Regions from separate parts of the Homo sapiens genome. Here region 1 is linked to region 2. Evidence: fine-mapped expression QTL. A gene starts in region 2. The other region holds a variant in brackets. All regions are shown on one strand. Distances are between the middles of the regions. Region 1 overlaps ICA1 (islet cell autoantigen 1). Region 2 holds the start of ICA1 (islet cell autoantigen 1).

Region 1 (5,000 bases), 120 kb after region 2:
AGTTCTTACAATAAAGAAATACGCTGGTCCTTCTCAAGAAATAAGATTCTTGAAAAGAAGGATAACATGATGACGTGGGTGTTTTAGGAAAATTACTCTGTGCAGAGAGAGAAACAGAGCTGGCAGTTTGGAAGTGTGACACCAGTATCCATCTGGTGTCCATGGCAGACACCAAAATCAATCACAGGTCTGCTCTGCCGAGACACAGCCTGAGAACCATCTTCACTGGCCCTCCAGTCAGCCAGTACTAATCAATCAGAATTGGCCATGAAACCTGATTGCCTCCTATGTGTGTCAGACAAGTGAACGATAGGCAGGAGAAGGACAGGAGAAACAAGGTGAAGGCCCCAGGCTCATGACTTGGATTTTAGTAGTTCTGAGAATATAAGAAGGATAAGTATCCTGAGATGTTTATTTTGTATTTATAGGTTTGTATTTTAATTAGGGCCAGAAATAGAGATCTTTTTGTATAAATCATTATTCAGTTCTAGAAATGTTTTGCTTTTTCTTTCAGGATCATTGTCACTGGTATACAGTTTCTAGGCACTTGCTGTTTAAAAAAAAAAACTTAAATATTTAGTTAACCTTGAAAATAGTAACTCCAACAAATGATGTGCCAAAAGAAGACTCTCACCCATTTTAATCTACAAAGATTTGGATGCACCTGCTCTGTCCACTCGTGGGAGTTAGGTTGTCAGAATATGTTAAGCCACTATTTTTGGTTTTTTAAGAAAAGGTTTTGTTTTCTGTTATTTTTTAAAACTGGGTTTTAGATTGCAAAATAGCAAACAAAATTTAAAACAAAATGAAATCGTCTCATCTCTGGTGGAGGTGGGAGGAACTTCTACTTTGTCAGTGTGTGGGCTGCGAACAGAACAGAATGTTTATCTTAACTACATGTTGAAGTTGAAAAATAAAGTTAGCAATAGCCAAAAGGCCACGTTTGAATAACTTATCACAAAATGGAAAACATAAATCTTGTGGCAAATCAGCTCTGCTATATATGCTAGTATTTCTCGGATGTGTCTGAGAACATTGTTGCTTCACCATATAAAATTTTATTTCTTCCAGCTGATTGGTTCAAGGTCACCTCCCAATACCTGTAATTCAAAGTTTGGTTGCTGGGACAAATGGCAGTTGAATTTTTTAATTGATAACCTTTCTTTTCTTTTTTTTGTCTCTATTTCTTCTTCTTTTTTTTTCTTTTTCATTTTTCTATGGCTCGTGATCAAGAGCTTACAAGACCCTATGAAAAAATTAGTTGAGAAAGAAGAGAAGAAGAAAATCAACCAGCAGGAAAGTACAGATGCAGCCGTGCAGGAGCCGAGCCAGTAAGTCACAGGTTCCTTCCCTCTGCATCTTTCTTCCCACAGGTGAGAGTTATGTGGTTCTCGCTGACCGAACCTGGCTGGGCCTCAGACGCAGACTTGTCTTACTTCCTCACTTCTCAGAGTAGATGTATTAGCATCCCAGCCAAACCCCTTTAACGCATGCTCCTGCTAGGTCATGACTCACGTATCCCAGTAAGAGATCGGTTTCCAGGGGACTTAGAAGGGCACACTTGTGAGGAGCTGACTGGAACAAGACAGGGCAAATGTCCCCAGCATTCCCTGGCTCTCTGCCTGTGACCTGAGCCCCAGCTTTGCACTTTCTCTGGTTTCTGGACCCTATCTGGTCCTTTGTCAACACTAGATGCTCTTCTAGATAGGAAATCCCCTGGCTTTTCTCTCACTGAGGGAGCTTACCTATGAAATTGCCCTGGGATACATGCATACTAAGGCATCATCATATGAAAGTGTTGGATTTTGGCACTGTGTTTTCTACCATGCAGAATGTCTGTTTTCTTCTCTGTGAAACAGAGAACAGCTTCAAGTACAGGAAATGACTGCTCCATCTCCATTTCATGCCCCTTTACAAAGAAGGTGCCTCTTGTCATTTTAAATACTGAGATGAACTTTTCAACATATGTGGTGCATGGTTCCCTTTCTCATACATTGAGAAGGAGGTTGAAATGTGGATCTGTATCATTTTCTATGGAGATATAATAGCTTGCAGGAATGCAGTTAATCTTTGAACTGGCCGACCTAGGAAAACAAAATGGATGGCCTCGTTTCTATTCTCTACTCCTTTTCCACACACAAAAAAAATTTAGATGACAGTCTTATCGTAAAACAGGCTTATACTTTTATTGTATTTCTAAATCGACTTTCAGATATATTTTTTGTCCCACAGGAAAAGTTGCTGCCAATATTAGCCTTTTTAAATTTTAAAGAGTATATGTACTAGATAAATTTTTTGATGCAGAATGAAGACAAGTTCTCACTGAAGGACAGACTGTAGAATGTGATCTGAATCTAGTAAAACTGGCTATTTTATGGTGAACCAGTTTAACCCATTCCTGGTGATGGTAATAGTGCTAGCTATCATTTTAGTGAGCACCTACTATGAACCAGATACAATGCTAGGTGTTTTATTTATGTTAATTCCATCTCATGACAACCTTCAGTGACGTCAAGGCTGGGATTTTCCTTGTCATGTAAAAGATGGAAGGAAGGTTCCGGAAGGTTAAGGGGCTGCCCACTTACTCTTGTGTAGTAAGAGGTGAGACCTGAAGTGGGTCCCTGCACCTTCTTTTCACCATATAAGTTCATACAATCAAAATAAAGCATTCACCTTTACTTGGAAGTGGATTACCTGGGATTTTTCTTGATTTGTTTTAATTAATTCAGATTTCTCAAATACTTCAGTGCTTCATTTTTGAAAGCTCACAAAGTATAACCCAGTAACTATTTAAAATGACAGTGAACACTGAACGTGAATTTTGTTTAGAAATAGCAGAC[A/G]AAGGTGCATCACGGTGCTAGGAGGAAGGCTCGGAGGCACCAAGTGAATCTCAAGGGCAGTGATGTGTCTCTGTGTTTAAAGAAGTGGTGAGAGTTGAGTAGGAGATGGTCAGCCTGGATTTATGAGTGGTCCTGCCTGCAGCCTCTGTAGCCGAGCTAACCTCTGGAGGTGTCCTCTCCTATAACACTAGGAATCAGAAGAAATGGATTCTGATTGATATTTTTACAGTTTTTTTAACTATCAATTTTTACTATTTTTAAGGTGATAACTGTATGCGTCTATCTTATTTATATCTAACTGCCCATCTAGATATTTACAGAATATTTGCCTCGAGATGAAAGCAAATTCAGATATTAAGATGCTACAGAAAGGGAAAGAAGGCCAGCAAATTGGCATGTAAATGACTATATGTTGACCCTTCTTCGTGTGCGTGTGTGTGGTGTATGTGTTTGTGTTAAAAGTGAAGTAATATTGTACTGAAAGTCTGGCTGTATCATAAATATAACATTGGTAGAAGTTGATGACTAAACCTCTTTTTTATTTTAAGATTAATTTCATTAGAGGAAGAAAACCAGCGCAAGGAATCCTCTAGTTTTAAGAGTAAGTTTTGATTTTTATTTAGAATTGCTTCTGAAATATTACTTAATGCTTAACAGCCAAGTCATTTTACTTTTTGACAAACTCCTCCTAGGCCTTTCTTCTTTTTCAACTGAGAAAAGGCTAATTTGCTTCCTGTAGACTCAGTTCTAAATGTTCAGATATCCACCATGTCAACCCTACAGCATTACTGAGAGAGGCTGTGTATTGTGAACCAGAAAATCACATCACAGTCACATCAGCAGCAGCTCTTCAGAGGGGCAGCCACGATGGGAACTGGCAAATCGCTGTTTCTTTTCACAGCGGATTATAAGATTTCTGCTGTGACCCTGACTGGTTCTAGTTTTCATAAGATGAGGCTATGACCTCAGGAGAGGTGGATTTGCGGTATGTGTGGGGCGGGTGGATGTTTGTCAATGTTGGAAACAGATAGGAGCTGCTCACCCTGCCCTGCCAGCTGATGCCTCAGCCTGCCAGTGCCAAGCAACCCCTGATCCCTCAGGTGAACTGAACCTGATGTGTTAGGAGAAGGGGTCAGAGCGTTGGGAGATGGCACAGTGTGCTGTGCAGGCTCATCAGCTATTTCTGTCTCCTGCTGTTACTGCCAGTGTTTTCATTGGTCCTTCACCTCACAGAGGGACACAGGGTTTGATAGATTGTGGTAGAATTAATGTGACACAGTACCAAGCACTTCACTGGCACTCAAGCTCCTCGGAGATGCGGGGGAATGTTTTACAGGTGTTATGAAGAGAACTAAAATTACCCCAACACTGTGTTTACCTGGTCCCCCTGGGGACATATGCATCTCTTCCTGCTTCACCCTCTGGTGTGGTACCTTCCTGGAAGATAGGAGGAGGCAAAGGAGATTCTAGAACTTCTCCTCTGCTCCATTCTTCTCCTTCACCCTCTATCTTCCTTTTTACCTTTCCACCCACTTGCTTCTCCTCCTATTTGCTTTTCTCCTATCTGCCTTTCAACAACAACAACAAAAGACTCACTTTTTTGCCTCTAATGCTTGCTTCATGTCATCCATTCACACATGTACACCTTCACGTACAAGTACTCATGCACTTGTTCATTTGTTCAACAGATGTTTATTGAGCCGCCTCTGTGCCAGGCATGGCGCTGGGCTCTGGGCATACAGTGGTGCACCAGACATAGTCCCTTCCAGGATGAGGCTGACAGTCAAAAGGGCAAGCAGATGGTAATCTAATCATTACCAAAGTAATCCAGCAGCTCCAGCTTTGGTGGGAGCTCCAAGGGAGAGGTGTAGGGCTTTGGGCACATGTGATGGAGAGGACACAACTTTTTTAGGAGATCAGGGAACTGGCTAAGCCAAGTGCTATGGCAAGACTTGTCAAAGCAGAAGAAACAGCCTGGGCAAAGGTTATGGGCACAGGAGGACCTGGAGAAAGTCAGAGAAACCATGCTCCAGAGCATGAGGGGGAGCGAGTGGCAGGAGGAGAAAGGGAGCAGCTGGGCCTGCTCTTGTTGGCCACAGAAGAGCTCTCTGTCTATATGGATGCAAGCTCTCCAGCCTCAGTGTACCCACGGCACGAATC
Region 2 (5,000 bases):
TACCTTTGGGCAATCTTGCTTTGCCTAGGATGGCAGAATAGAATGACAGAAGGGCAACAGCCCAGTGACACAGTGGAGATCGCACCAGCCCTAGACTGCCTACCTTCCAATTTAAGTGAGAAAAAATAAAGCCCTATTTCATTTAATCCACCGCTATTCCAAGTCTCTGTTAGTAGCTTAACACAAATCCAACTCTTGTGGTCCTATTAGCATATCTTGAATCTGGGAAGCTCTTGAAAAAATTATTGAATTGAATATGTAAAGATTTTTTTCATAGAAAATTTTGTCATCCTGTTGTACACTGGAAAACGCACCTTATTTCTCTCCTAATTTCTGATCCCATCATTCAATAGCCATTCTCCTTAGAAACTGTTTCGGGTTCTCACTAGCACCTTACTGGTGTTCTGCAAGATGGAAACAACAGCTGGTTATTCAGAAACAAATGCAAGTGTTATTGATGGAGCCATTTTATTTAAGGGGAAGGAAAAGTACTCATTGTGGTGATGGAGAATGAGCAGGAGTTGTCTATTATTTCCTTTCTCAAATATTATGCTAAGTGTTAGGACAATAATTAGAATGAAGAAAAATCAGTTAAGGTTTTCTCCTAAACTCTCCGGGAGCCCAAAGAATTTCAGTGCCATGTTGACTACATAATGCTTGTATCATGTATTTGTTCTCTTTTAGACATTGCTTTTGAAGCCACTTTTAGCCTCTGTAACAGGTTAGACTCACAGTCATCGTTTTCACCTTGGAATTCAGAAAGCATAAAAGAAAACTGCGTAATCAGTTGCAGCTCAGCTGTCCCCGTTTTTTCCCTTCATGCTTTTGTTCCAATCATCTGCATTTTGAGGGGATACTTTGAACACACACACAACCTCCCATTCTACTGGCTGTTTTGTAACAGATTTAAATATTTGCCCCAAAGCCAGCCTTTGACCAATGGGGCTTCTGATTAAGTTTTCATGTAACTGGTAGAAAGGAGAACATTACAGAGTCAGGAAAAACTTTTCAGGTGATTTAGTCCTTTCTCAATGCTTCAATTAACTGATGATAACGCTCAGTCAACATTTATCGGGCACCTATGATGTTCATTACGGCACTTCATTCTGTTAAAGAATAATAATCTCTTTATCCTTTTAACTCCCGATAATAGCTTTTTACACATAAATTTACAGTTCTTGGAATCAATGTATCTTAACATATCTTAATCATCTTTCTTTTGTAAGGAAGACTTTCTCATTTTAAAGGCTTTGGGTTTTTTTTCTTACAGCAAAATCATTTGGCTTGCGTTGTTAACACGTTAGTTTGAATTTTTTTTTATAAAAGCCAAATATATATAAGCAATGCTTTTCTCTCTGAAAATTTCTCCTGAATCTTAGCTTTTCAACAATTTGCTATTTTGTAGACCATATTCATGATTTGTTTACTCATACACACTTACTAAGGAGATGTTTACTCAGCTCCAAAATTCGTGTTAAGACTAGGACAGGCTCAAATCTATGACAAACAGAATCCCCAAAGAATAACTTTAAAGGTTATGTAAATTTCTGGAGGTATCTTATTATCTTTCTATTAAAATGTCAACATATTCTATACTTTTTCTCCATCCATTCTGGCAAGACACCATGCTATCTTGAGATTAAGCTAAGTCTCCTGGTTCAGATTCAAATCCCTGCTCAATAATCTCTTTATGGCACTCTGGGCAGTGTCTTCATCTGTGAAATCGGGATAATGATTTTATCTACAGTATTGGGTTGCTGTAAGGATTAAATATAAAGCATACAGCATGTGCCGGACATAGAGCTAGCACTCCATCCATGTTAGCGCAGGATTTCTGATTCGTCAGCATCATTACTCAATAACTATCATTCGGCCCTTTTAAATTGTTTCAGCGACGACTGAATGAACTTATTTATAAATGTATAACATAACTAGGGATGAAGTCATACTACATTGAGGTTTCATTTCCACATAGATAATATTAGGAAGCAGCTATGCCAACACTTTTTCTTCCTGTGATCTGTATACTGCAGGGTCTCTAGAAACAATGGTTTGGTTCTTTCCTGGTGACAAAGGATAAGAGAAGATGAAACTGCTACAAATGGCAATAACTTAAAAATAAAAGATACAGAAATATATGGAAATGAAAAACATATACCTATACATACACAGCTGTTTTTAAAACATGACCTTTATTCTCGAAGCTCAAACTTGATTTCCAGGTACAGCAGGCCTCTGTAACTTTTCTTGGCAGTGAAGTCATGAAGTCTCCTGTCCTCTAAAGCTACAGAAATTTAACCTGGAAGCAAGCAGTAGGCACTACGCACAGCACAGAGGGAACCCTGGGGTGTACGCTGTGGCTCCCACCTGTCCGCCAGGTCATTGTGACGCAAACGCTATGGCCACGTGGAACACCTGCCGGAGAGCAGGGGCGGGGTCACTCTGGGCGGCGGATCCGAGCGGGGGATACCCCAGGAGATGGGGGTCGAGGAGAGACCCCGGGGAGTAGAGAGAGAGAAACTCACTCCCCGAGTCCCCGACCCTCCCCAAGCAAGGTGAGGTCAACGCCACCCACCTTCCCCCGGTCACCCTGGGAGGGGTCGCTCCGGCGGGCGTCTGCTGGAGGGTAGAAGCGGGGAAGGGAGGCAGCGGCGGCGCCCAGGCGGCGGTAGGTAGCCGGGCGGCGAGGGCGCCCGCACCCCCCGGCCGCTGCGCTGCGCTGCGGTGCGCACGGGCTCCGCCGGTTGCTATTCCGGCTGGTGGCGGCCGCCGCAGGAAGGGCCGGTTCCTGCGCTCCCCCCGCCCCTTTCCCTCGCCTTCGGCTGACGCTGACGTCGGATGAGTGATCCGGAGGGACGCTCCGACCGCGGCCGGGAGGCTCCTGGGGGCCGGGGCTCCGAGGTACCTGCCCTCCGGGGTCGGGGCGGGGGCGCGCCGGGCGGGCTGCAGGAAGCAGCAGGAGACGCCCGGCAGCCGGGACGGTCGGGGACGCCTGGTAGGAGCTGCCTTCTCTGCCCTCCGCGGGCGGCGCGTGATAGGCGAGTCGCCTCCTCGGGTCCCGGATCCCGGTGCGGGAACCGCATCAGCCCCTTCCCCTCCCCTCCTCCCTCCGGCCTGGGAAGGTCTGGAGGATGCGCGCGCCGTGAGAGCGTGCGTCAGCCCCGGGGGAGCGGTAGGGAAGCGTTCCGCGCTCCGGCCCCAGCGCTGGGAGCACCGGCACCCATGCCAGCCCACCCCACCCACCCACCGCGCGCCTCGCCTTCCCGGCGGCTCCGGCCCCAGGACCCCGAGCTCCCTGGTGGGCAGGGACTTGCGTCCAGGGTTGACTTGTTGACAAGTTCACCTGCCGCGGCGCCTGGTGTGTGCTTTTTCTCTTCCCCTCCGTGGCCCTTTTTTTGGCAGGGGCGGCAGAGAGCATATGGGTACCTCTTTATAACCACTAGTGCCAGGAGGCCTGAGCTTGGTCCCCCGGGGGCGAGGTGCTCAGCAGTCTCGGACTAGACGGGGCGAGAACCCCTAAGCAACCCCGGTTCCAGCAAACCCTGGCGCGCCCGTTTCCTTTGGGCGCTGCTGACTCCGCCTTTCCTGCTCCGGGGCTATTGCAGCTCCTGCTTCCTCTAGAAACGAACATATCCTGTTGTTATGTCTGCCTTTCCCCCAAAGCGGCTCTCCAGGAACCTTTCCCACTGTCTTTTTACTTGTAGTACCCCCAAAGCACCTGAGCTTCTCTTTGGGGTCTTAAAAGTATCGCGCCCTTATTCTGGCGAAGGGCATTAACTGCCTGGTTGGGGAGAGTTAGTTTGGAAAGAATCGCGTTCTCTTCATTTAGATGGCATTAAAAAATTAGCGCAAGAAAGGGTTTTGTTCATGAATCTTAGTAACCGAGATCTGGTAACGGTATAAAAATTATCAAGGCCTGGAAAATATGTCACCAGCTTGCTTGGGAGTGATACTGAATGTAGGAAGAAAGACACATAAGGCATTTATTGGCCATTAAGGTCCTATAAAATATGACTCATCGCAAACATGTTTTTGTCCATACGTTTCAGTGAAGTCTCTTCGGAAAATCTCAAATTGGTTTCTGTGGCCCTCTGGTTTGAATCTGAGATCTGAACTGTTCTGTGGTTAGGGAGTGAAATAAGAAATGCTTAGTTTGAAATCTAGGCTCCCGATGCAATTTCATACCCCCTGTTTAAAACACACACTCTCTAAAAATGCTTTTAAGTAAGTTTTCAAACCAAAGATATATTTTTAGATTTCAGTCTTTATTTTTGAAACACCCTTTGTAGAGAATACCACAGGGACAAAATCAATTTATAATCCTGAATAGCTCAAATATCACTCTTTGGTTTTATACTAATACTGTACATACATCTTAATTGCAGGAGATGTTGCTTTCTAATTGTTTCTGTTTGTATTACAAAGGGAAATAATTGTACTGTTTATAAAGATGAATCTTTAGAAAACGTAACAGTTAAGCTACAGCGGGCTATTTGTGGAGAGACCTGATGTTAAAAAACGTTAACCCTGTATCCTCCACCCGTGGATCATTGAGTGCTAAAGATACTGGATGGTAATTGCCTGGGTGGTTTATTTTGTAACTATTTTCCCCCATTTGGAACACCTGAGTAACTATCTGACTGCTTTCTCTACGCATCTTTACCGCAGTGCATAAAGATCAATCTCACGAAAAGTATAGAAAATTTTGTTACTCAGAGCCTTCAAAATCAGTACGTTTTCAAGGTATTTGACTAAATAGTACATTTTTTTCAGGTGCAAGCAGCATTAGCGGTATGGAGGTCTGGTAGTTATGCCATAACGTAGAAGGATAAACCTATGTTTGGTATGAACTTTTAAGATTATAGAAACCTCATGCGAGAGAGGGAGGAAGTTAACAGGCCCCAAGTGTCAGGATGAATTTTTCCTCTTCGTTGGTTGAGCCTGAGGGTAGGTGGCAGTGTTTATAATCAGCACGCTGGTCACTAGTGTCCTTTTTTTCC

The links.
Region 1: its variant is fine-mapped to the expression of ICA1 in whole blood (INTERVAL, PIP above 0.99).

Annotation. Positions count from the first base shown.
Region 1 is chr7:8,140,206-8,145,205 of GRCh38, reverse strand. It overlaps ICA1 (islet cell autoantigen 1), which reads left to right. Exons shown (of 14, transcript NM_001136020.3): 9 at 1,234-1,331; 10 at 3,389-3,441. Among named protein-coding and RNA genes, the nearest start is that of ICA1, 120 kb to the left of the region's middle. RefSeq lists an enhancer at 1,324-1,553. The variant A/G (reference allele first, on the strand shown) is at 2,841.
Region 2 is chr7:8,259,995-8,264,994 of GRCh38, reverse strand. ICA1 (islet cell autoantigen 1) reads left to right here and starts at 2,828. Exons shown (of 14, transcript NM_001136020.3): 1 at 2,828-2,901. ICA1-AS1 (ICA1 antisense RNA 1) reads right to left here and starts at 2,770. Exons shown (of 6, transcript NR_125740.1): 1 at 2,576-2,770; 2 at 2,169-2,415; 3 at 315-404.